Linked DNA regions of Homo sapiens: regions 2, 3, 4 and 5 are each linked to region 1. Evidence: fine-mapped QTL for protein levels in blood plasma. Region 1 holds a variant in brackets. A gene starts in each other region. All regions are shown on their reverse strands.

Region 1 (5,100 bases):
TTCTATGCCATAGTATGGGGAGTAGTGATGGTAGTGAGGTAGGAGGCAGGTATTTTCCTCTAAGATGTTAAGGATAGATTTAGTACCATTATGATCTCTTCTTTGACATGTGGGTTATTTAGAAGTGTCTTTATAAATTTTAAAAAAAAGTATTGTGATAAGAAATTACCTTATTTTAAATTGATTTCTTATTTAATTTAATTTCCTCGAAGTCAGAGACTGGTCTGTATGGGAAGGATTTTTTAAAAAAATTATGCAGACTTGCATTACAGCCTAGTACATGGTCAGTTTTGGGAGTAAATATTCTATATGTGCTTGAAAATAATGTAATTCTCCAGTTGGATATAGACTTTTTTTGTATTCCTATTAAATCAAGCTCATTTTGTTGTTCAACTTGTCTATATATTTACTAGTTTGTATCTGCTTGTACCATTCATAATTGCAACAACAAAGAAGTATATGTTAACCTCTCATTTTGATGGTTGATTTTTCAATTTCTCTCTTTTGTTCCTTTGTATATTTAGTGATGTTTTATTAGTGGGTGCATATTTATTATCTCTATGTAGTGATCTTATCTAACCTTTATAAAGCTTTTATTGTCTTTTTTACTTTTAGATATTAATATAGCTACCTCAGCTTTCTTTTGGCTAGCATTTACCTGGTATATCTTTTCCTATCTTTTTACTTTCAATTTTCCCTTCAATTTATGTTTTAGATGTGTCTCTCATAAATGGCACATAACTGGATTTTTTCCTTTTATCCAGTCTGTTAATTCCTGTATTTCAAAGGGTGAATTTTGCTCATATATGAGTTTCATATTCATTGATATACTTGAACTTGTTTTTACCATTTTACCTTTTGTTTTCTCTTTGTCTCAGTTTTTTCTGCACTTACCTTTGTCTTCTTGCCTTTTAATTTTTGTTCTTAATTTGTTTTCTGCTCCTCATTACTGATTCTGCAAGATCCCATTGCAAACAAGCTGGCTGTTAACAGGGTTAGTGTTGGAAACAACAGCAACCTATGGTGGAAGGTGGGGCTTGGGGTGGGATATGGCTTTTCTGAAAGGAGTCAGATTGGCAAGTGATGGGGAAGAGGAGGCAGGGAGCTGATAGAGTCCATGTCTGATGGTCTTACAAAAACCTTTTTACAAGTATGAGACAAGCATGTCTGATGGGACTGGAGGGAAGGGAAGTGGGAGTGTGAGATGAATGAAGGCTTGAATAGAACCCAAAGGGACTAGGTAAAGGAATTGAACAAGCATAAGTAACAGAATTTATGGGTGACAATGAGGGTTCAGCTGAGGTTGTAGACCAGGAATTATGTAGAACCTGGGTATAGGAGCAGACAAGGCAGGCTAGAGCATTAGCACAGGTTTGGGATTTTCATGGGCAGTTGTGGCAGAGGGATGAAGGTATATGGATATGGAAGGTACTGGTGAGAGTGGTTCAAATGTTGAGCCATCTGGAGTCCAGGATGGGTATGGGGGGAAGATAGATCAGCAGAAGGCAAGTGGACCAAGAGACAATGTGGGGCTCAAGAGACTGTGGTCTTGATAAAGTTGAAGAACAGATAGAGCAGGAGTGAGCTGTGGTTGGAAAGTGGGAATTCTTGAATTTAAGATTTCAGAGGGGGCAGTTCTGGTTGGTCAGGTCCATAAATGAAAAAGAAAGGGCAGATGTACAATATTGGTAGTTCCATTTTCTTAAGATACTATCTTTATTTCCTCAAGGATCTTCTTACTTCCCTGGATTTTGATATTACTTGGTCTCATTATTATGCCAACGTGCCTTTCTCATCACAATATTCTGCTGCCTCTCCACAAGCACCAGTTTTTAAATCTGATATGGTTCTCATTTCTAGTGTGCCTGTGCTATCCTTGCTTTTTAGCTGACAGGTAACTGATAATACCTCTTTTATCCAGGAGCCACTGATTTTTTTGCGCAGTGTTTCAGCCGTAATCACACATATGGGAATTCATTTCCACAATGCTTTTGATTTGTCTGTTTAGTACTTTATAGTTGCTTTGGTTATAATTCTGCCTAGACTGAGCCTGTAGAGCACCAACTCTGGT[A/G]TCAGATTGCCTGGGCTTGAATCCCTGCAATTTCACTTACTTGCTCTTTATTCTTGGGCAAGTTAGCCTAACCTCTCCTGAATCCTAATCTATACAATGGGGGTAATAATAGTCACTCATTCTTGGTATTGTGGCAAGGATTAAATTAGTTAATATATGTTAGGTACTTGTTTGGCGTATAGTCAATTCTCAATAAAAGATACTGTTGGGGTGACAATGACAGTGATTGCAATATTGGCAGCATATGCAAAATTGCGTACCAGATATTGCATTAAGTGCTAGGGCAGATACAGAGGAGAAGATTGAAAAAGTCCTTGTTTTCATGGAGGGTATATATTCTCCTTGGGGATAAGAACTAAGAACACTTCCTCAAGACTGTCTAAGAAAGGGTGTGTGCAAGAGGCTTAACATCTTATAGTTCAATAAAGACCAGGAAATATACAAGTTGAGGAAATATTGAGGTTTCAGGAACCTGTATAGCTTTGCCGTGTTGTTTATGTTCTCCACTGTTTTGTAGGGAACTAGTAAAAAAAGAAAAAGAAAAAATAAAGTGAAAGAGGCGTGTTGTCTAGTTTCAAAGGAGAGGAGAGAAGGTAAGTGTGATTCTCATTTCCTTTTTCACTCTCTGTCTACCTTGGGCTCTTTGACTCCCATGACTACCAAGTGTATATTATCAGATACATTTTTTCTTCCTGAGGTCCAGCCCTGTGTCTCCAACTATTTCCTGGGCCCAGTTACCTGGATATCAAGTATGCAACACTAACTTAATAGGGTTAAAACAAAACTTTTTGCCTTACTTCCAAACCTGTTTCTTTCCTTACATCTTCTATTGCTATGAGGGCTGTCACTAGCCAGTCAGTTGTTTAATCTTGACTGTGAACTAGGCATCTTTGACTTCACCTTCTTCATCCTCTCTGCTCAGTCAGTCTCCCTATTCTGTCAATTCTACTTCTCAAACCTATTCTGTTTTTTCTTGCTGCCTGGCTCAGGCCTTTATCATTTTAGAAGATTCAGCAAGTATTTGTACTCCAAACATTGTGATTGGCCCTTTAACACACATTATTTAATTTTTTAAACAACGTTTGAGGTGGGTCGTTTTGTAGATGAGAAACCAAAGAGTCAGAAATAAAATGACTTCTGCTGGGCACGGTGGCTCTGTCTATAGTTCCAGCTACTTGGGAGGCTGAGGCAGGAAGATCACTTGAGCCCAGGAATTTGAGTCCAGGCTGGGCAACATAGTGAAACTCTGTCTCTAAAAATGAAAAATAAAATGAAATGAAAAATAAAATGACTGGTCTAATTGTTTAGAGGCACAGTTAGTAAATCTAGATTGTCTTTTGCTGCAGTATTGTAATAATATCTCTGCCTCATTTGTATTGTTTTCTTTTTTGAGATATAAATGGAAGATATATGTAAAAACAAATTAGAACTATGTGAAGTAAAAAGTGAAAGTTGCCCCTTCCCAATTCTACTCCCCAAGGGAAACCAATGATAGTGGCTTTTGTTCTAGACCTTTCTCTTTGCATATACAAATATTTAGATAAATTCTTTATAAAAGATCATTTTTTATTGTCCTACAACTACTTTTTCACTCATGGCCATATTTTTATGTCAGTACGTGTGTATCTACCACATTTTTAATGGCGACATAATGTTCCATTATGGGGACATATTATTTTGTTTAATGATTCCTATGTTAAATAACTGTTTCTGTTCTTACAAATAATGTTGCAGTAATAGTCTTGTGCATATACTCTTGCTTGTGCATTTGTATGAATATTTCTATTAGGTAAATTCTTAGAAGTCATATTGCTTGGTTAAGTATATGCCTATTTTAAATGTATGTACTACCAAATTGTCCTCTGATTTGTCCTCTAAATCAGTCTTTCATATTATAACTAGAGCGATATAGCTATAATATGTCTTTGTAAAGTGAATTTCATCATGTGATTTCCCAGCATCAAAAAGCAACATCAGAGATGTTTGGTGGATTTCTATTGTCTATGCAGTAAATTTTAAAATTAAAAAAAATTTTTTCCAGACAGGATCTTGCTTTGTTGCCCAGGCTAGAGTGGGCCACATGTGATGGCGTGATCTCAGCTCACTGTAGCCTCAACCTCACAGGCTCAAACAATCCTCCCACTTCAGCCTCCCGAGTAGCTGGGAATGCAGCCGTGTACCATCATGGCTAGCTAAGTTTTGATTTTTCTTTTTGTAGAGACTGAGTCGCCCTGTGTTGCCCAGGCTGGTCTTGAACTCCTAGGCTCAAGAGATCCTCCTGCCTCAGCCTCCCAAAGTGCTGGGATTACAGGTGAGAGCCTCCATGCTGAGCCAAAATTCTTAAAATTTTAAAAAAGTTTTTAAGAGTTATGTAATCTGGTCCCAAACTATCTTTCCTACCATTCTTCCCTACCAGGAAATTTGTCCTCTGATAAGGCAAAATCCACCTCTTCTGTGAAATTTCCCATGTATACTGCTCTCTTTCCTCTCTCTATGCAAGATAGAATGAGTTGCTTTCTTCCCTAAGTTCTCATAGCACTTAATTTATAGTCCCTTATAATCCCTCTGATAGCACTTAATGCGTTGTACTGTATTTATGTGTGTCTGTCTCCCCTGCTACTCTGTGATTTTCATAAGGGTAGGAACTGTGCCTTACTCATCTTTGTATCCCCAGCACTTTACACAATGCCTGTCAGCGTAGTGCTCAACAAGTGTTCATGAATTTGGGAAAGATATCCTGGAGGTAGTGCTAGAGTGCTAGTATGATAAGAACTTTGAGAGATAGAGTAGGGGGTGGAAGTTTTGAAGTATAGCAGAAAGCTGACTGACTCCTGGGAGAATGGAAGCTGGTTAGGAATAGACAACTGGGCTTAAACTGGCAGGAGCCTTCATGTGCTTTTCTCCTTCACTGCAGAGACCAGCTGCCTGGTTATTTGGGTTAATAGGCTTGAGATTTGAGAACATTTAAAGTATTAAAAATTGGATGATTGAGGACTCACTTGGTGGAGGGGGAGATTGACTCAGCTGTT
Region 2 (5,100 bases), not on the chromosome of region 1:
GGCCGGGGGCGGTGCGGCGGGAGGGGGCCGGGGCCGGGGCCGGGGCCGGGGCAGTGCCGCGAGGGGCTCGTCGGGCGGCCGCAGAGTCGGCGCCGGGCCGGGCGGGGCGGGAGGAGCGGCCGGGAGGAGCGCGGGCGGGCGGGCGCTGACCCGGGCCGTACGCGGCTCTACTGCCCCGGGCGCCGGCTCCGGCCCGTTTTATGCCCCGCGCCCGACGCCCCGGCCGGGGGCCTCCTCCTCAGCAAACGGGGCGGCGGCGGCAGCTCGGCGAGGGGCCGGGCTGAGCCCGGGGGGTCCGACCCAGCAGCAGCGGCCCGGATCGCGGGTGGGGGAGGGGAGGGAGGGGCTGGGACCGGGCAGGGGAGGAGGGAGGGGCGGGAGGGGAAGGGGGAGCGGGGGAGGGGGAGGGGAGGGACCAGGGGGCGCGAAGAGGGGGAGGAGAGGCGGGCCCGGAGCCCCCCGCTGCTGGCGGCCACAGGGCGGCTGGACCAGGAGGTCGGTGTCCAGCCCAGGAAGGGAGCCTCAGGCTAGGGAGGGGCAGAGGCTAGGCCTGAGGCCTGGACCGCTCTGTGAGCGAGGACCCGGTTCCGCCCGAAGGATGAAGACTTGTCTTTAAAGATGACAACGTACAGGAAAGGTCCATCAGCCGATCTCCCCCTGCCTGGGCCCACAGCGCCCCCCAAACCCTCACCACCCTCTCTCACTGCCTAGCCTGCCTCCCTACCTTCTCTCTGAGGTCGCTCCTCATTCTTGTGTTACCCAGGACAGGGACCTAGCCAGAAACCGGCAGCATTCCCCCTTCTGTGGAGTGACAGTATCTCCCTCTCATTGTAACTTATCCTCAGGCGCATTCGACAGTCCCCTCTTGCTTTCTCACCCCCTTCCTTCACCCAAGGGACCCTCTGCCTCTCCAGCCCACTCCCAGCCTCCTTTCTCTTGGTTCCCTGGTCATGCCTGCCTCCCTGTCTCCTGTCTCTCCCTCCCACACACACCCACTATCCTCCCAGCTATCCCAGCACCCTCCTTCCTAATCTTGGGAGACATCTCGTCTGGCTGGACGGGAAAATTCCAGGATCTAGGCCACACTTCTCAGCAGACATGCCCATCCTTGGGGAGGAGGAACAGGAGAGAGCCTGAGGAAGTTCTGGGGGACAGGGGGATGATGGGATCAAGGTCAGGCCAGGAAGCCCCTGAGGACAGAGACTGTGGGGAGACTGGGACTGGGAAGAAAGCAAAGGAGCTAGAGCCAGGGCCAAAGGAAAAGGGGGGCCAGCAGGGAGGTATTTGCGGGGGAGGTCCAGCAGCTGTCTTTCCTAAGACAGGGACACATGGGCCTGGTTATTCCTCTTGTCACATGTGGAACGGTAGGAGATGGAAGACGGAGACAGAACAAGCAAAGGAGGGCCCTGGGCACAGAGGTCTGTGTGTGTAGCCATCTAAGCCACTGGACCCCAGCAGACGAGCACCTAAGCTCAGGCTTAACCCAGTGCACGTGTGCGCACATACATGTGCCCCGCACCTGACAGTCCACTCAACCCGTCCAAACCCTTTCCCCATAACACCAACCCATAACAGGAGATTTCTCTCATGTGGGCAATATCCGTGTTCCCACTTCGAAAGGGGGAATGACAAGATAGGACTCCCTAGGGGATTACAGAAAGAAAAGCAGGAAAGCAAGCATCCTGTTGGATTTCAGCAGCAGGTATGATGTCCAGGGAAAAGAAATTTGGATAGCCAGGGAGTGAAAACCCCACCAATCTTAAACAAGACCTCTGTGCTTCTTCCCCAGCAACACAAATGTCCTGCCAGATTCCTCCTGGAAAAAAACTTCTGCTCCTGTCCCCCTCCAGGTCCCAGGTTGCCCATGTCCAGGAAAAGATGGATCCCCCTATCCAAATCTTCTCCGTGGTGTGTGTGGGTGGAGGAGTGGACCCTGGTCCAGGCAGGGGCTCCAGGGAAGAGAAGGCGTCACTTCCGGGGGCCTTCACCAGTGTCTGGTGGCTCCCTTCTCTGATTGGGCAGAAGTGGCCCAGGCAGGCGTATGACCTGCTGCTGTGGAGGGGCTGTGCCCCACCGCCACATGTCTTCCTACCCATCTGCTCCCCAGAGGGCTGCCTGCTGTGCACTTGGGTCCTGGAGCCCTTCTCCACCCGGTGAGTGGCCAGCAGGGTGTGGGGTTATGTGAGGGTAGAAAGGACAGCAAAGAGAAATGGGCTCCCAGCTGGGGGAGGGGCAGGCAAACTGGAACCTACAGGCACTGACCTTTGTCGAGAAGAGTGTAGCCTTCCCAGAATGGGAGGAGCAGGGCAGAGCAGGGGTAGGGGGTGGGGTGCTGGTTTCTGAGGGACTGATCACTTACTTGGTGGAATACAGCACAGCCCTGGCTGGCCCTAAGGAAAGGGGACATGAGCCCAGGGAGAAAATAAGAGAGGGAGCTGCACTTAGGGCTTAGCAAACACAGTAGTAAGATGGACACAGCCCCAATCCCCATTCTTAGCTGGTCATTCCTCGTTAGCTTAAGGTTCTGAATCTGGTGCTGGGGAAGCTGGGCCAGGCAAGCCAGGGCGCAAGGAGAGGGTAATGGGAGGAGGGCCCACTCATGTTGACAGACCTACAGGAAATCCCAATATTGAATCAGGTGCAAGCCTCTTTGCACAACTTGTGAAAGGAGGAGGAAGCCATGTGGGGGGTCCTGTGAAGGAACCGGAAGGGGTTCTGCCAAGGGGGCAGGGAGGCAGGTGTGAGCTATGAGACAGATATGTTAGTGGGCGCCTAAGACAAGGTAAGCCCCTAAGGTGGGCATCACCCAGCAGGTGCCCGTTCCTGGGCAGCTGGTCTCAGGAAGGAAGTCCCAGAACTGTTAGCCCATCTCTTGGCCTCAGATAATGGAGTATTTCAGGACTTGGAGTCCAGAGAAAAGCTCCAGTGGCTTTATGTGTGGGGGTAGATAGGGAAAGAATAGAGGTTAATTTCTCCCATACCGCCTTTTAATCCTGACCTCTAGTGGTCCCAGTTACAGCTTTGTGCAGTTCCCCTCCCCAGCCCCACTCCCCACCGCAGAAGTTACCCCTCAACATATTGCGCCCGTTTGCCAGTTCCTCACCCAGGCCCTGCATCCCATTTTCCACTCTCTTCTCCAGGCTGAAGCCACAATACTTTCCTTCTCTATCCCCATCCCAGATTTTCTCTGACCTAACAACCAAGGTTGCTCAGAATTTAAGGCTAATTAAGATATGTGTGTATACATATCATGTCCTGCTGCTCTCAGCAGGGGTAGGTGGCACCAAATCCATGTCCGATTCACTGAGGAGTCCTGACAAAAAGGAGACACCATATGCTTTCTTGCTTTCTTTCTTTCTTTCTTTCTTTCTTTTTTTTTTTTGAGACGGAGTTTCACTCTTATTGCCCAGGCTGGAGTGCAATGGTGCGATCTCGGCTCACCACAACCTCCGCCTCCCAGGTACAAGCGATTCTCCTGTCTCAGCCTCCCAAGTAGCTTGGATTACAGGCATGAACCACCACACCCTGCTAGTTTTTTTGTATTTCGTAGAGCCGGGGTTTCACCATGTTAGTGAGGCTGGTGGCGAACTCCTGACCTCAGGTGATCCACCCGCCTTGGACTCCCAAAGTGCTGGGATTACAGGCATGAGCCACTGCACCCGGCACACCATATGCTTTCATCACAAGAAAATGTGAGAGAATTCAGGGCTTTGGCAGTTCCAGGCTGGTCAGCATCTCAAGCCCTCCCCAGCATCTGTTCACCCTGCCAGGCAGTCTCTTCCTAGAAACTTGGTTAAATGTTCACTCTTCTTGCTACTTTCAGGATAGATTCTTCACCCTTGGCCCGCCTTTGCCCCACCCTACTCTGCCCAGAAGTGCAAGAGCCTAAGCCGCCTCCATGGCCCCAGGAAGGATTCAGGGGAGAGGCCCCAAACAGGGAGCCACGCCAGCCAGACACCCCGGCCAGAATGGAGCTGACTGGTGAGAACACACCTGAGGGGCTAGGGCCATATGGAAACATGACAGAAGGGGAGAGAGAAAGGAGACACGCTGCAGGGGGCAGGAAGCTGGGGGAACCCATTCTCCCAAAAATAAGGGGTCTGAGGGGTGGATTCCCTGGGTTTCAGGTCTGGGTCCTGAATGGGAATTCCTGGAATACCAGCTGACAATGATTTCCTCCTCATCTTTCAACCTCACCTCTCCTCATCTAAGAATTGCTCCTCGTGGTCATGCTTCTCCTAACTGCAAGGCTAACGCTGTCCAGCCCGGCTCCTCCTGCTTGTGACCTCCGAGTCCTCAGTAAACTGCTTCGTGACTCCCATGTCCTTCACAGCAGACTGGTGAGAACTCCCAACATTATCCCCTTTATCCGCGTAACTGGTAAGACACCCATACTCCCAGGAAGACACCATCACTTCCTCTAACTCCTTGACCCAATGACTATTCTTCCCATATTGTCCCCACCTACTGATCACACTCTCTGACAAGGATTATTCTTCACAATACAGCCCGCATTTAAAAGCTCTCGTCTAGAGATAGTACTCATGGAGGACTAGCCTGCTTATTAGGCTACCATAGCTCTCTCTATTTCAGCTCCCTTCTCCCCCCACCAATCTTTTTCAACAGAGCCAGTGCCCAGAGGTTCACCCTTTGCCTACACCTGTCCTGCTGCCTGCTGTGGACTTTAGCTTGGGAGAATGGAAAACCCAGATGGTAAGAAAGCCATCCCTAACCTTGGCTTCCCTAAGTCCTGTCTTCAGTTTCCCACTGCTTCCCATGGATTCTCCAACATTCTTGAGCTTTTTAAAAATATCTCACCTTCAGCTTGGCCACCCTAACCCAATCTACATTCACCTATGATGATAGCCTGTGGATAAGATGATGGCTTGCAGGTCCAATATGTGAATAGATTTGAAGCTGAACACCATGAAAAGCTGGAGAGAAATCGCTCATGGCCATGCCTTTGACCTATTCCCGTTCAGTCTTCTTAAATTGGCATGAAGAAGCAAGACTCATATGTCATCCACAGATGACACAAAGCTGGGAAGTACCACTAAAATAACAAAAGACTGAATCAAGATTCAAATCACTGAAAGACTA
Region 3 (5,100 bases), not on the chromosome of region 1:
GGGAGGCAACCAGTCCCGGGCAGACGTCCGGCCACCCGCCCCTGCTGCGCGACGGCCCCCCTCGCTCGGCCTATTTGGGGCACCTGACTCACGGTAATTATGAGCCCGCGGGCACGTCGGGGCGCGCCGGGAGAGGCCGGATGCACCGGCTCCGGGGGCGACCGGACATCCCAGGCCGCCAGGTGCACCTTGCTTCCCACCAGCACCTCCCCGCACCCGCCGGGAGCTCCCCGCTGCTTCCGCCAGGGGCCCCGGGCTCACCTCGGGGCGCCCACGGACTCCCAGACGCGCGCCTCAGCATGGGGTGCGAATGTTTCGGGGGCGGCGCGCGGGGCGCGTCTGCCTCCCGCACAAAGCCAGGCTCTGTCCCGGGGTCAGCGCCTCTGTCTCCCGGGCCTGGGCGGGGACGCCCACGCCTCCTCCGACGCGGGAGTATATTTAGCCTCATTATCAAATGTTTGCAGTGAACTGTGTGAACCGACTAATAGCGGCTGGAAGTGAAACTCGATTCCTGGCCAGAAAGAAGCATGTGACCGCCCCCGTCTGCAAGGATCGCGGCAGGGCGGGCGGGGCAGGTGCCGCAGCCTCCGCGCGCAAAACCCGCCGGCGGGGCCCGGGTCGCACCGTCCCCTCCTGGGCCGAGCACCTGAAACCCACCTCGTCCCTCCGTCCCCCTCCCCAGGGGCTGCAATGAGGACGCTGGGAGTTTGAATGGAAACGAAGGCCGGGGAGGGGGGTCCGCGCGGGCGTGGGTTTTTTATCCAAGTCGGTGACCTCTTGGTTAAGTCAGCCCTGCGGTTTCAACGCCCAATCCCCCCAAAAAAGCCTGTGGGGGTCCACGTCTCCTTGTGTCTTCCGGGGATCCGGCGGAGAATGTGGCGGGGCCGGGCAGGGGGGTCCCAGTCCCACGCCGGGTGCGTCGTGCCCCGAGTCTCCCCAGAAGGCGGCTGTCGCGCGGCTGCACAAGTTTTCGCCTCCCTCGCGCGGCCGCTGTTGTTGTGGTCGCCATGGCGACGGGTCGCGGTTTTATTTTTAATAGCGGCCGGCGATTAGAGAGATGCCTGCACCGCTTTCGCCTAAGCTCTGCGTCCCCCGCGGGTGAAGCACCCACGCCCCGCCCCAGCCCCCGCCTCGCTCCAGCGCCCCTTGCACGTCCCCAGGTGGCCCTAAACTCTAGCTGGGCGCACCCGTAGCTCCAGGCCGGGCAGGGGAGCCGAGGGAAGCAGCCATCTAGGCCCTCAGAGGCGGCGAGGACCCCCAGGATCCCTCAAGCTGGGAGGGACGGGTACCCCATCCCCAATACAACGCGACCTTCCTCCTTGCCTTCCACACCGTCTTACCGAGTCCTCTAACCCCACAGAGGTGTCCTCGGGCCCCCTCTGCGCGCGAGCAGTCCGAGGCCCAGGAAGACAGGATGCGCGCCACTCCGGGATAACTGGCCGAAGAATGAGGCCGGGGTCCGGCCTGCGTCCTGGCCCTGCGAGTCCGGCTCTTTCCAGAAGCCATGCAGTGGGTGTCCCCTCCCAAGCCGCAAGTTCCCCCTGGAGGGACAAGGCCTGGCTTTAAGGGGCTCCTCCACGTTTCCAAGGCTCCCCTGGTTCTGTCCCGGTCCCGCTTGGTCCTGACCACCCAGAGGGCATGCTTGACCGCGGGGGTCGTGGTGTGGGGCTGCGGCCAACGGAAGGGAGAGACGTGGGGAGGGGGCCTGCAGGTGTGTGGAAGGGCGCGTGTAGACGCGACCCACTGGGAGCGGAGGGAGAGGCGTCGCTCCCCAAATATTTGGGGGAAGGGGAGAGCCCCCGAAGCGCTCTCCGGATTCGGCCTTTGAAATGCTAGAGCTGGCCTAGCTGGGGATGAAAGACCGCCCGCGGGGCTGCGCCTTAACGGCCTTTGTCTGGAGGGAGGGCGACCGCGACGGGGGCAGGGGTTTAATCGACAGGGTTGGGGGTGACGGCTGGGCCGGGCGGGATTCTCCGCTGCTCACCCAAGGAAGCGTCTCCTGGGCTCCAGGGGCCTAGGCCGTCTAGCCTCGGGGTCTGCACAGCACGCCACCCCGCTGGACCCGGTACCAGGACGCGTAGACCCCCTGGCAGGGCACTGACGAGCACCTGGACCTGTAGTCAGGGTCCAATCCCTCCTGGTCTAGGGAGGCGAAATCCATCCAGCCCAGGCGCACCCGCCCTTTCTCGGCGTGGGAGCCGTCTAGCCACGCTCAGACCTCGGCCTCCGCGCGCGTTCCTCCCCCGCATCGCGCTCTGAGCTGCGCCTCGGCCGGAGGTGGCGCTCTGTGCGCCCCACGGATCCCGACGCGGGAGGCTCAGAACCCGGGGGACCCTCACCGGTGGCTCCTTTCCCTTCCATCCCCTCGACTTCCCGGCTCAGGGCGCGGCCCTGCCTTCGGCGCGGGAGTGGGGGACTGGGGGGCGCGGGGTCCCAGGGTGGGGACGAGGCGGGCTGCAGGCCCTTTCCCCGACTGGAGCTCGCTCCCAAGTGGAAATGTGGGTGGAGGGTCCTCATTCAGATGCCCCAGGCCTCGGATCCTGGGCGGGGGCGCGTGGCAGCCGCCAGGTGAGTGCCCCAAACCCGCCCCCCTCCTTCCCCAAAGACTGACTCCCCCTCCTTTTATGGAGAGAGGAAGGCTGGGGCCCTGGATCCGAACCGTGGAGAGCGGCCGGAGCGCCGGGGCGGGGGCGGGGACCGGCTCTCTGGCCCTTTTTGGCGCAGCAGCTCTGGGCGCTGCCCGCTGCCGCCGCTGGGGCCCGAGAGAGGCGAGCCGGCGACGGCGGCGCTTCTGCGGCGGCCTCCTCCCTCCCCACCCGGTGCCGCAGGATTGCAGCTGGCACTGGAGGGTGGGCAAGCTCGAGGGAGGGGCGCGGAGCCCCGGCGCGGAGCCGGGCGCGGGGCTTTGATGGATTTAGCTGCTTGCGCGAGCGCGTGTGTGCTCCCTGCCGCGGCGGCGGCGCCCGGGCCCTGCCGGGTCCGCACGAACCCCGAGCGCTTCCGAGGTGCGGGTCCCAGGCCCGGAATCCGGGGGAGGCGGGGGGGGGGGGCGGGGGCGGGGGCGGGGGAGGGGCGCGGCGGCGGCGCTATAACCCTCTCCCCGCCGCCGGCCGGCTCCACACGCGCGCCCTGCGGAGCCCGCCCAACTCCGGCGAGCCGGGCCTGCGCCTACTCCTCCTCCTCCTCTCCCGGCGGCGGCTGCGGCGGAGGCGCCGACTCGGCCTTGCGCCCGCCCTCAGGCCCGCGCGGGCGGCGCAGCGAGGCCCCGGGCGGCGGGTGGTGGCTGCCAGGCGGCTCGGCCGCGGGCGCTGCCCGGCCCCGGCGAGCGGAGGGCGGAGCGCGGCGCCGGAGCCGAGGGCGCGCCGCGGAGGGGGTGCTGGGCCGCGCTGTGCCCGGCCGGGCGGCGGCTGCAAGAGGAGGCCGGAGGCGAGCGCGGGGCCGGCGGTGGGCGCGCAGGGCGGCTCGCAGCTCGCAGCCGGGGCCGGGCCAGGCGTCCAGGCAGGTGATCGGTGTGGCGGCGGCGGCGGCGGCGGCCCCAGACTCCCTCCGGAGTTCTTCTTGGGGCTGATGTCCGCAAATATGCAGAATTACCGGCCGGGTCGCTCCTGAAGCCAGCGCGGGGAGCGAGCGCGGCGGCGGCCAGCACCGGGAACGCACCGAGGAAGAAGCCCAGCCCCCGCCCTCCGCCCCTTCCGTCCCCACCCCCTACCCGGCGGCCCAGGAGGCTCCCCGCGCTGCGGGCGCGCACTCCCTGTTTCTCCTCCTCCTGGCTGGCGCTGCCTGCCTCTCCGCACTCACTGCTCGCGCCGGGCGCGCTCCGCCAGCTCCGTGCTCCCCGCGCCACCCTCCTCCGGGCCGCGCTCCCTAAGGGATGGTACTGAATTTCGCCGCCACAGGAGACCGGCTGGAGCGCCCGCCCCGCGGCCTCGCCTCTCCTCCGAGCAGCCAGCGCCTCGGGACGCGATGAGGACCTTGGCTTGCCTGCTGCTCCTCGGCTGCGGATACCTCGCCCATGTTCTGGCCGAGGTTGGTGCCGCCCCCGCGCCCCGTCCCTGCGCCGGCTCCTCCGGCGCACACCCCCCGCCGGCTGGGGCGCCACGGGCTCTGCAGAGAGCGTTTTGGTTCCTGCCAGGGTGGTCGATGTTTAGATTTTCCCAACTGGGTTCTATTTTCTGCCATGCCTAAGTGTGTGTGGGGAGTTTCCAGCGTGTTGCGTCGGTCGCTCTGCCTCGGGGGGACCGGGGAGCAGCGAGGTGGACGAGTGGGCAGAAACTTCGGGGGGCGCAGTGTCCTCTCCGGGGAAGGGGAGCTGGGGCGCAGCGGGCGCTGCAGCAGCGGGGTGCGGGGAGCGGGGAAGGGGGTGTGTGTGAGCCGGCGGAGCCTGGGGAGGAGAGAAGGGCGGCGGATAAATAGGTAGGGGCGGCTGCTGCGGAAGCCCCTGGCCGGGCAGGGTGGGCAGCGCCAAGCTGCAGCCCTCGGTTCCCAGTCCCCAAGCCCGGCGGGGCTCAGGGCCGGCGCAGTCCCGCCCGCCCGGGCCTGCTTACAGGTGGCTGAGCGAGGCGAGCTGGGGCTGGGCCAGGCGTCCGCACCCTCCCACCGCGGCGTCCCCGCCCCCCCATCCCCATCCCCATCCCCATCCCCGGGAGCTTTGCTGTGATGAATGACTTTCCACAGCCCCCGTCGTGGGAACTTAGTGCTTCAGGCTCCCCAGCGACCCCCGACTCTCCTTAAAAATCGGGGAGGGGAGTGGGGGAGGCCAGAGGTGAGGGTGGTCTCCGCAGGGCACGGAGAGCTGCGCGAGGTGGAAGTTTAACCCTCGCTTTCCCTGGAGGCTTCTTCTCCCGGCCGCCGGCTGGATTTGGGCGTCTTAGTCGGCGCTAGGGCCGCGGCTGGGCCGGAGCCCGGGGTGGGGCGAGTGTGTGAGTGAGATGTGTGTGCGCGTGTGTGTGTCTGCGCGCGCGTGCGTGTGTTTGTGAGACGGAGAGACCTCTCCACGGGTTCGGCCCGGGATTCCGGGGCGTGAAATTTAAGCCCTGCCTGGATTAAAGTGTTAGGGCTGCCGTGACTCTCGCCGACCCGTGACGCATTTTAACTTGATCT
Region 4 (5,100 bases), not on the chromosome of region 1:
AATAAGAAAAATGAAAAGGACAGCTGAACGCCAAAGCTGGTTTCTTTGATATCTGTATGATCCCATCGTCCTCCTCATCATCCCCCTTCTCAATTGACCTCAAGGTTCTCCCCAGACAAATTTTTATGGAAGAGTCCACTACGAGGTGAACCGTTGTATTGAATCATTGAGGGACACGGAGGAAGATAAGGACCTCAGAGACCTCCCAACTTCTCTCTTCTTCCCGATTAAACACTTGCAATGAAGATACTTCAGCGGAATCCTGCATGCTGAACACCCATTTGCAGGTGGCGCCGCAGTGTTCTCAGGGCGGAGATTTCTCCCCCCACCCCCCCCAACCCCCCGCCCCCGCCCAATTCATAGACGCTCAAAGGCTGGACAGTTTTAGTGTGAAAGGGAGCTTTCAGGACTCACCATTTTTGCAGTAATTCCCGGGGCAGCACATAGCGTGACGCATGCAGCGTTTTCGGCGCTTCCTGCAGGCGAGACAGATTTGCACGCCTGCGTCCCCTCCGCGGGTGGGACTAGCGCAGTACTCATCAGTGCCGCACTCCTCGTCCTCTGCGCACGGGTACGGCTGTGGGAAGGGTTCGGGGAGAGGGTGAGGCACCCAGACGTCCAGGTACCCGCCCTCTTGGACCCGGGCGCTGATCACAGTCCTTATCTGTCCACCTCTCCAAAACCTGTTACTGCCCACTGCTCCCAAATGCAGGGTTACCAAATGCTCCCTGAACCGCACACATTCAGCACGTTCTACTCCCTCGTCTCCAGATAGGACCCTTTCAAGGTCAGAGCATCCTCTGAGTGCCCGACCCCTCTCACCTGGTAGTTGTCAATGGTCTGGTACTTATTCCCGCCCGGGTACAGGATTCCCGGCGCGGCGCTGACTGCAGAGCCTGGGTGCCCCGCAGCGCCGCCCAGCGGTGGGGGCAGGTTCTTGATAGCGTTGGAATTGAGAACCGAGTTCAAGGTGGCGCTCACTCCCAGCAGAGGGTGGCCGCCGAGAGCCGCCGCTACCATCGCGACAAAGACCCGGGTAGCTCCCGCTGCGCCCAGAGCCATCATCTCAGAAGGACTCAAGAGGGAGAAAGAAAGAGAAAATGACCGTCACTTTGCAAGCCTGGGTCCCCACGAAACCGTGCCGGTTCGGCTGCAGAGTCAGGGTCCGGGAGCCCCCTGCGGTCCCAGAGTCCTGACTGCAGGGAGCACAGAGCTCTGCGCCGCCACCGCCACCGCGGCTGCCTTTATACCGCGGGCCCGGAGCATTCCGGCCCCTTGGGAGGGAGACAACAAAGCCGGGATGGGATTTCAAAGCGCTGGGAGGGGCTGGGAGGGGGTGTGTTTGTGTACATGAAGGGGGGCCTTTGACACTCTTCACCCCGCCCCTCCCTTGCTTAGTCGCTCGGCTGGCCCGGCTCACCTTCGGGGTGAAGGCTACCAGCGAGCGTTATAGCAGACGACTTTAATAAATGCAGGCGGCAGCAGGAACTCTGGGAACTTGGGTGCCCTTGCCTGGCAGTAAGGGTTGAATTATCCGGATCTGAAATACTTTACAGAGCCGAGGGGTGATAGGCTCTGCAAAAGCACTTTTTGCCCCTCTCCTTTATGCCAATACTCGCTGACTGTGCACACAAGTCATATTCAGTATTAAATACAAACCGGTCTGTAATTCAATGGCTCTAGCAAGACGCCTCTGAGAGGGCCAGGTGGCGGGTGCAAGTTGCTCATTAACCCTTTAGAGTCGCAGTTTGCAGATCTGAGTTAGATCCCCGGCTTTGAGGTCCTTCAGTTGCCCTCCTCCCCCACCTCCCCCCGCCACTGCGAGAAAAATGTGCAAAGAGAAGGAAATTTGCACATCAAACGAGGGTAAGAAGGAAGAAGAGCTAATTCTCTTTTGATGGGAAGTTTAGAGAGGGAGGCGAGAGACTGGCGTTTAGAAATTAGATCAGGGGTGGAGGGAAGAGGGAAATGACCATCCGATAATCAAACCATTTAATGTTGTTCTTTGAATCAGGGCAATCGCGGCGGTAGATGAACTTGATTAGGCAGACGCGTGAGATCAAAGTGGCCGGGACCAAAGCGGACAGGGTCCAACGTGCCAGGTCAGTCGCCTTTCCCCGGTTCTCCCTTCTCAGTGGTGGGCTAATGTGGAGAAATAAGAAACCCTTAGGGCTTAGCGCCTGACTTCCTCATTAGTATATCACATCGCAACGCTTCCGAATGCAGGGTTTGCTCCCAAGTCTTACCTTGCACGGGACCACGCAATACCCTTTCTAGGGAGAAAAGAAACAACCTTGAGGAGAAGAAGAGCTGAAAGTGAATTAGAAAGTGAATTTGACGTCATTGAAATTGGTGTGTGGATATAATAAAGTAAGGCTGGTGTATAAGAATGATGTCATGCTTATAAATGGGAAATGATCTATTTAATTCAACAAAAACTTATTGGAAGCCTAGAGCCCTGGCATTGGGCTGCCCTCTGGGTTGTTACCTTATTTTTATTTTTTAAATTTTTTGGTGAGATGGGTGGTGGGGGGAGGGGCACAGTGAATACAAATATTTATGAGACACAGCTCTCATTTTAAATAATAAAGTTCTCTTTATTCTAATTACAGTAATAATAAAAGATGTAGTAACAATAAAATTATAGCAATAAATATAAAAGCATACATAATTCTTTTAAAAACAGGTTGATATTATAAGTGTCAGAAAATAAGCAACTGTTTTGTGAGTTTGGAAAAGGGAGAGATGATTGAATAATCACTATTGAATTAAAAAAGAGTAAGATATATTTATTTTGTCTTCCTCTAAGCTGTATAGATTTAGGCTGTCTATAATGACTCCACATGCTGACCTACTATAGTCAGAACTGGGGCCACCACCAAGTAAAGCCAGTGACAATCTTAAAGTAAAAAAATCCTAAAGTTTACTGGGAGAAGGAGTAATTAAAACACAATTTACTATGGTCTGTGTTCTAGTTCCTTCAGTTTCAAAGGTAATATTAAGAAGATCATCTAAACAATTCTTGAATGGTACCCTAGTTATATTAGTGTCCTTCCCATCCCAAATTCCATCTGTCCAGGAAATTATCCTGTCAGGAATCAATGCGTTAAGCACCTTCAGTGTACTAGGAAATCTGCAAGCTGTGTTAAGTTTGAATGACTTTGAAACGTAGAGAAAAATCCGCCTGCCAATCAGAAGGTTGAAAATGTTTCTTTTTAGTCCTATTAACCTGTTTAAATATTTTGAATCTAGAAATATATTTGTGCCACACTAAAGGCCAATCTCTTGCCTTTTTTTCTGAAGAGATAGTATATGATTAATACATTTAATGAACTTGGTTCATTAAAAGCTTGGCTTCACAAAAAAAATCCATTGCCTGGGGCAAAAGAAGAGAAAGTGGAACAATTTAATCAACAAAAGGAAAATTCTGTTATAACAAAGAAGCTTGTTGCATAAATTCAACCTTGATCTCTGAACACATATCATTTGTCTATTATGTTTCAATATTCACTGAGTCTGGACAGAATCTGTGGTATTGAGCTAGGAGAGCTAAACCAAGCATAGAGTTTCAAGAATGGGCTAGCTTCTACCTCCTTCCTCAGCTTTCACATTGCTCCTGAAGTTGTCATGAGTTTAAAACTAATAATGAGTTGGTCAATATCTGAGTTCCTACTTTGTGCTAAGCATTATACATGATATTGTGTGATAAAAGATGAGTTCACATATAATCTACCTTCAAATCATTTAGTGGGCAGAGGAGAGGTAACCTCACAAATTATTCAGGGGAGAAATTACATGGGTGGTCCTCAGAGAGGGCTAAGTACATAGCAAATCAAACCTTTGTTCCAAATGAGGAAATTTATTTTTTCAGTACTTTTTCTCCATTTGAAAATCCTTTCCAGGATGTGGTTTGTTCATTGGCAACAAGAGTGCAAGGTAGATAAAGAGGTATAGTAAAACTCATTGTTCCATCAGCAGCCAGTTAATATTCGGTGAGTATCCATTATTGGGAGCATATCTCACAATATGAAAGGCAGGCTTCTTGTCCTCAGCTTTCAGTCTGTGACTAGTTGGGGAAATACAACATACTTACATGGGGCTGGGGGTAAAAATTTTTCCAACATCGATTATATTTTGGCAGATACTAGGTCATGGAGAGCAAGAAAAATGTGCAGGAACTGTGACCAACATGTCTTAGGAAGGAGAGAGGGTTCTGGTGATTGTCTGAGTCTCTCTTACAGCTGGGTGACAGAGGAGGTGGGAGCCAGAGTAGATGAATTTAGTTTATTAAACTGAGTTTATTTAGTCCTGTAGGGAACCCTGCCTCCTATTCAGTCTGGTATAAATATGATCATAATTAATGTAACAAATTTAATATTTTGTATTATATTTTTGAATAGGTGAAATATGCTTATCAGCGTGGAATTGAACCTCATAACTCGGGAACAGCATGCTAACACATGTCTTCTTTATATTTTAAGTGCTGGATGCCATGCATAGAATATTTCTCAACCTTTTCATCCATGAGGGAGACAGACAAATATACTCCAAAACACTCCATGCTATTCACCAACTATTTTTCCATCTCTATTATTTGTGACTGCTGATTTTTTTTATTTTATATATTTTTATATATTTTTTGAGACAGGATCTCATTCTGTCGCTCAGGCTGGAGCACAGTGGTGCAATCGTGGTTAACTGCAGCCTTGACCTCCCAGGCTCAAGCGGTTCTTCCACCTCACCCCCAAGTAGCTGGGACTACAGCTGCATGCCACCACACCTGGCTAATTTTTAATTTTTTTGTAGAAACAGGGTCTCACTATGTTGCTAGCCAGAGCTGGTCTTAAACTCTTAGGCTCAAGTGATCCTCCCACCTTGGCCTCCCAAAGTGCTGGGATTACAGGAGTGAGACACCGCGCCCAGTCTACTGCTGTATTTTAAATTCCCTTCTTTCCTCTTTTCTTTTTTCTCTCCCTCCTTCCCTTCTTTCCTTCTTTCTCTTCATTAAATCAAAAGAAGCAGATTTGTTGCCATATAATTTTACTTTGCTAGGAAAATACCGCATACATATCATTCCTTACGGTGGGTGTTGCCAACATT
Region 5 (5,100 bases), not on the chromosome of region 1:
TGAATGAACTTAGAGGGATCCTGACTAAATGAACCCAACTTGGATTGAATTTGCAAAAGATCAGACATGATCAGAAAAGGGACATGAACTTGGCTTGTTCCCAAATCTTCATTAGCCACCTTAGGGAGAGGCAAAATATTTTGGGGATTTTTCTGAGGACTCTGTACTAGTAGCATATGTGACTCCCCTGAGAGTATGTGAAGGGGAGAAAGTATTTGGGTATGTGGGTGGGAGATTGACTAGGGAATGGAGCAGATGGAGAGGGTGTAGGTGAAGAGTGAGCAGGTTGAGGAGGATGTAATAGGCAAAAGGAAGGATCATCTAAGACATCAGAACCGGGAAGGGAGGACGTTCCTTGGAAGCATACATGACAATTTGTATGTAATTTTGGGTTTGGATTTGGGGATAAAGCAAAAAAGACCTGAACATATGGGACTTCTGAATCCTTTCCAAGGTTCCGGCAAAAAATCAGTTAAGTTGTAAAGTAGCATTGCAATCCCAAGTTTCATTAATTGGCCAAATTGATTGATTAGGGAGCTTGTATTGAACCCAAGCAATATTAGAAAAAAGGATATGCTTTTTAAACTCTTATTTATTTTTTATTTGTATTTTTTGAGACAGAGTCTTGCTGTGTCGCCCAGGCTGGAGTGCTGTGGCGCCATCTTGGCCCACTGCAACCTCCGCCCCCGGGGTACAAGTGATTCTCCTGCCTCAGCCTCCCTAGTAGCTGGGATTATATGTGCCCGCCACATATAATTAGCCCCCTGGCTGATTTTTTTTTTTTTTTTGTATTTTTAGTAGAGACAGGGTTTCGCCATGTTGGCCAGGCTGATCTCGAACTCCTGACCTCAGGTGATCCACTCGCCTCGGCCTCCCAAAGTGCTAGGATTACAGGTGTGAGTCACTGTGCCCGGCCAAGTTTTGCATTTTTAGTAGACTCCCGGTCTTTAACTCCGGACCTCAGGTGATCTGCCTGCCTTGGCCTCCCAAAGTGCTGGGGTTACAGGCATAAGCCATTGTGCTCAGCCTTATATGCTTATTTTTAAGAGTTTGTGGGTCAAAATGAGACCAATGGGACCATTTTTAAGGAGGCAATCCAAGGGCGAGTTGGATGGAACTGAATTAATTGAACCGAAGTTGGGTTTAGACAAGGAACTACAAGATCCCTGAGGCATCCCTGTGTAGAATTGAGATCCACCGCTTCCAGGACAAGGCTTATGGAGTGTTAAAATGAAAGTGCCCTGCCACTCTGACAGGCAATAGCTCTTTTGTCTTGGCCTTGGGGTAATACCGGGGGATGGCGCTTGGCCAGAAACTGTCAGTTGCCAACGAGAACTCAAGCTGGTTCACTGGCAGTCCGAAAACAGAAAAGAGCCCTGGCCAGTCCCTCACCCCTAAGGGCAAGGACAGCCAGGTATCCCTTCTCTAGGGCTTCAGGATCCCACAGAAGAGCTGCCTCCACCGGGACCGGCAGTTCCCCAAAGAGTAAAGAACCAGACCGTGGAAGGAAGCAGAGAGAAAAAGGAAGAGGGAAATCCCAGTGAAGTCCCCGTATGGGCCACCAAGATGCCAGGCGAGGTGTCAGAGCTCCGGAACCGGGAAGTGGTTGGCTCCCGGGTGGTAAAAGAACTTATCAACAACCGTGTAGGTCTGAAAAGGAAAGTTTTATTAGACGGAAAGGACGAGGCAGCAGAGCGCAGTAGGCGCTTCAGCAAGAGAGGACTGAGCTCCCTGCGGGGAACTGCAGGGTAATTTGGACCACATTAGTCACTTAGGTCATGGTAAATGGTTACATTTGTCGATATTTTGGTGCCTTGATGTCAGCAAAGTTTGCACAATGGGTCTTAACGTGCACTCATTCCGGAAACGTACAGAAATTCTAGTTACTTATAAATTCTTGGGACGGAAGCTTGGTACCAGATGTGGCTTTAGACAATAGGGAAGTGTCATTCTGAATTGCTCAGATAAGGGGCTTTGCCTCCTGTTGGTCGACTTGATGGCCACCAGGTGATCTCTGGTCTCTTCAGTGTGGCTTTGCAGACTATAAAGGCGCAGCGCGCCAACGAGGCGGGTTGGCCCCAGACGGCGGAGAGGAAGGGCAGAGTCGGCGGTCCTGAGACTTGGGGCGGCCCCTTGGAGGTCAGCCCCGCTCGCTCCTCCCGGCCCTCTCCTCCTCTCCGAGGTCCGAGGCGGGCAGCGGGCTGTGGGCGGGCAGGAGGCTGCGGAGGGGCGGGGGGCAGGAAGGGGCGGGGGGCTCGGCGCACTCGGCAGGAAGAGACCGACCCGCCACCCGCCGTAGCCCGCGCGCCCCTGGCACTCAATCCCCGCCATGTGGGGGCTCCTGCTCGCCCTGGCCGCCTTCGCGCCGGCCGTCGGCCCGGCTCTGGGGGCGCCCAGGAACTCGGTGCTGGGCCTCGCGCAGCCCGGGACCACCAAGGTCCCAGGCTCGACCCCGGCCCTGCATAGCAGCCCGGCACAGCCGCCGGCGGAGACAGCTAACGGTGAGTTCCCCGACCGACGGTCCGCTCCCCCGCAAGCCGACTGCCCGGCTCTCCTGCCCCGTGGGGCGATCCCTCCCTAACACGCGGGCACACGCACACCCACGCACACTCACAGTCATGCACACTCACCCCGCACGCACACTCGCACTCACGCGCACACACGCGCGCGCACTCACACACATTCACACACGCGCACACTTGCACTCACACGCGCGCGCATTCACACGCATGCACACACACGCACACTCACACGCGCGTGCGCGCACACACAGTGCACGCGCGCGCACACTCACACTCACAGTGCACACACACATATACACACTCACACTCCCTCAACTCCCTGCTGGGAGCAATGGCTGCTGACTCGGCAGCCCCAGTTCCCTGCCAGACCTAGTCAGCAGTCCCAGGACAGGCGCCAGTGGGATGCTGCCTCTTCCAAGCCCCAAACCTTCCCTTTTCACCAAAGACAAAACAGGCCAGAACTGGCAGGAGGGGAGACAGAGGGGCAGAAGCTCTCAAGGTGCAGAGCAAGACTGCGTAGGAGAGAGTTTGAAGGCGAGGGCTGGAGAGAAAGAACAAAAGGAAAGAAGGGAGAGCCCCTCGCTGAGGCTGCCGGGAGGATGGGGCAGAGCGGGAGAGGAAGGCAGCCCGACCTCCCAGCTTTCCAGATGTGGAATAGGAGAGGAGGAGCGCAAGCGGAGGGCACTCAGGGGCTTCTAGAGGAGGCAAGTGGAGGAGGGTCTTGAAGGGTGATGTCCCCGAGTCAGGGGAGTCTGGAGAGAGAGAGAGAGAGAGGGCTGCCAAGAAGGAAGCGGCGGGCAAAGGCACAGGGGCACCAGATGCGGAAATGGGCAGCCTGTTCTGGAGGCAGCTGTGGAGCTTCGATGGGTACCCCCAGCACCTGCCTGGGCAGAGCCTTGTGCTGAAGGGCCGGCGGGCAGGCCCAGCCCTGAAAGCCTCGACACCCAGGCAGACATGGATTCCAGGACAGGCCATCTGAGCCCAGAGAGCAGACACAACAATGGAAGCGGCACAGGGGTTTTGGGGCATGATGCTGAGTCTGGAGCTAAGAAAGCCTCCTTGGAAAGGCATCTGGGCTGAGATGCAAAGGAAGAATGGGAATTAGGTGAAAAAATCAGAGGCGAGGGGTAGCATTACAGGGGAGGGGATAGCTAGTGCAGAGGCCCGGAGGTAAAGTGCCAGACTCAGCTCTTTGGAGCAACCGAACAGTTTCTAGAGGCTGGGTGCAGCTCTCCATTGGATTAGAGGTTCACAGGGGAGGCTGGCCAAGCATGTAGTTACATCAGGGAGGAGAAGGAGGAGCCAAGGAAGTGACTGGAGAGGCAGGTTGGGGTCAGATTGCAGGCCTTTGATGTCCTGTGAAGGCTGTTAGATCCTGGTGGTGTGGCCTGCTGTGGGCTCACATGTCTTCTTGGGCTGGCAGACCTTTCCATCCGGGGTTTCACCATTCTTCCTTTCCCCCATGCTGTGCCTCTCGGACCCCAAGGGACCTCAGAACAGCATGTCCGGATTCGAGTCATCAAGAAGAAAAAGGTCATTATGAAGAAGCGGAAGAAGCTAACTCTAACTCGCCCCACCCCACTGGTGACTGCCGGGCCCCTTGTGACCCCCACTCCAGCAGGGACCCTCGACCCCGCTGAGAAACAAGAAACAGGTACTTCCTCTCCAGGGGCCCAGCCCAGACTTGCAGCCCCTGGGGCACTTTACCAGCACAGCTCTTGGCCTCATGGGCACCGGCACGCCCCTTGCTTGCCTAGCGCAGGAGCAACCTTAGGCTCAGCTTCCCACCTGCCCTGGCTACCCTCCCTCTGGTCCTGTCTCACTGTTCTATCCCCGCCCCAGGCTGTCCTCCTTTGGGTCTGGAGTCCCTGCGAGTTTCAGATAGCCGGCTTGAGGCATCCAGCAGCCAGTCCTTTGGTCTTGGACCACACCGAGGACGGCTCAACATTCAGGTCAGTAATCCTGGCTCGGAGCCATGGTCTCAGGGTAGGGAAGGCAGCCCCTGGGAGCTTCTCTCCTGCCTCCTCTCTGTCCTGGCCTGCCCCACTCTGTCCAACTGGGCCTGACCACCATGTCCTGTGTCTGCAGTCAGGCCTGGAGGACGGCGATCTATATGATGGAGCCTGGTGTGCTGAGGAGCAGGACGCCGATCCATGGTTTCAGGTGGACGCTGGGCACCCCACCCGCTTCTCGGGTGTTATCACACAGGGCAGGAACTCTGTCTGGAGGTGAGGCAGACTAACCCTAGGTCAGGAGGTCACAGAAGGACTGGGGTGGGAGTCCTGGGGGCACCGATGATCTCTCTCCACCTCTCCTGCCAGGTATGACTGGGTCACATCATACAAGGTCCAGTTCAGCAATGACAGTCGGACCTGGTGGGGAAGTAGGAACCACAGCAGTGGGATGGACGCAGTGAGTGGTCCCACTGTGGCTGGGGCCTCCATGCTGGGAGTTGGGCACCCAGTCCAGGCTAGGCTGAGGCTCCTCTGAGGACAAGGAATAGACGCCAGCTTAGGCTTCCCAGGGGGGTGTGGCTTGTTGTCAAGAGGGTGGCACACGGCAGGCACCATTGGGAGCC

Direction of the effects. Positions count from the first base shown, and alleles are read on the strand shown. Strength reflects both the effect of a copy and how common the allele is.
In carriers of allele G in region 1, the plasma level of the protein whose gene starts at base 2,021 in region 2 tends to be lower than with A alone (strong association).
As copies of G replace A in region 1, the plasma level of the protein whose gene starts at base 3,119 in region 3 goes down (strong association).
As copies of G replace A in region 1, the plasma level of the protein whose gene starts at base 1,219 in region 4 goes down (strong association).
For the plasma level of the protein whose gene starts at base 2,275 in region 5, G is the low allele of the variant in region 1 and A is the other (strong association).

Evidence for each region. PIP is the posterior inclusion probability: the model's chance that the variant is causal. Protein levels are from antibody-based Olink assays in UK Biobank. Linkage for the fine-mapping came from a reference panel and not from the study's own genotypes, which makes the PIPs less certain.
Region 2: it holds the start of THPO, and the variant in region 1 is fine-mapped to the plasma level of the THPO protein (UK Biobank, PIP above 0.99).
Region 3: PDGFA starts here. The variant in region 1 is fine-mapped to the plasma level of the PDGFA protein (UK Biobank, PIP above 0.99).
Region 4: DKK1 starts here. The variant in region 1 is fine-mapped to the plasma level of the DKK1 protein (UK Biobank, PIP above 0.99).
Region 5: CPXM1 starts here. The variant in region 1 is fine-mapped to the plasma level of the CPXM1 protein (UK Biobank, PIP above 0.99).

What each region holds. Positions count from the first base shown.
Region 1 is chrX:100,702,375-100,707,474 of GRCh38, reverse strand. It overlaps SYTL4 (synaptotagmin like 4), which reads left to right. Exons shown (of 20, transcript NM_001370165.1): 3 at 2,589-2,664; 4 at 4,290-4,382. Among named protein-coding and RNA genes, the nearest start is that of SYTL4, 27 kb to the left of the region's middle. The variant A/G (reference allele first, on the strand shown) is at 2,072.
Region 2 is chr3:184,375,128-184,380,227 of GRCh38, reverse strand. THPO (thrombopoietin) reads left to right here and starts at 2,021. Exons shown (of 6, transcript NM_000460.4): 1 at 2,021-2,153; 2 at 3,824-3,981; 3 at 4,213-4,340; 4 at 4,627-4,713. The coding sequence starts at 3,969. It overlaps CHRD (chordin), which reads right to left and starts at 174. Exons shown (of 23, transcript NM_003741.4): 1 at 1-174.
Region 3 is chr7:517,865-522,964 of GRCh38, reverse strand. It overlaps PDGFA (platelet derived growth factor subunit A), which reads left to right and starts at 3,119. Exons shown (of 6, transcript NM_033023.5): 1 at 3,119-4,026. The coding sequence starts at 3,964. It overlaps PDGFA-DT (PDGFA divergent transcript), which reads right to left and starts at 2,574. Exons shown (of 3, transcript NR_033963.1): 1 at 1-2,574. RefSeq lists silencers at 15-324, 645-784, 905-984, 2,650-2,989, 3,090-3,179 and 2 more and enhancers at 640-1,561, 3,406-4,327.
Region 4 is chr10:52,310,400-52,315,499 of GRCh38, reverse strand. It overlaps DKK1 (dickkopf Wnt signaling pathway inhibitor 1), which reads right to left and starts at 1,219. Exons shown (of 4, transcript NM_012242.4): 1 at 823-1,219; 2 at 415-577. The coding sequence starts at 1,065. It overlaps PRKG1-AS1 (PRKG1 antisense RNA 1), which reads left to right and starts at 1,372. Exons shown (of 6, transcript NR_038277.1): 1 at 1,372-1,866; 2 at 2,015-2,102.
Region 5 is chr20:2,797,802-2,802,901 of GRCh38, reverse strand. CPXM1 (carboxypeptidase X, M14 family member 1) reads left to right here and starts at 2,275. Exons shown (of 14, transcript NM_019609.5): 1 at 2,275-2,501; 2 at 4,009-4,176; 3 at 4,365-4,474; 4 at 4,611-4,750; 5 at 4,844-4,934. The coding sequence starts at 2,330. RefSeq lists enhancers at 1,732-2,717, 2,718-3,705, 3,706-4,693.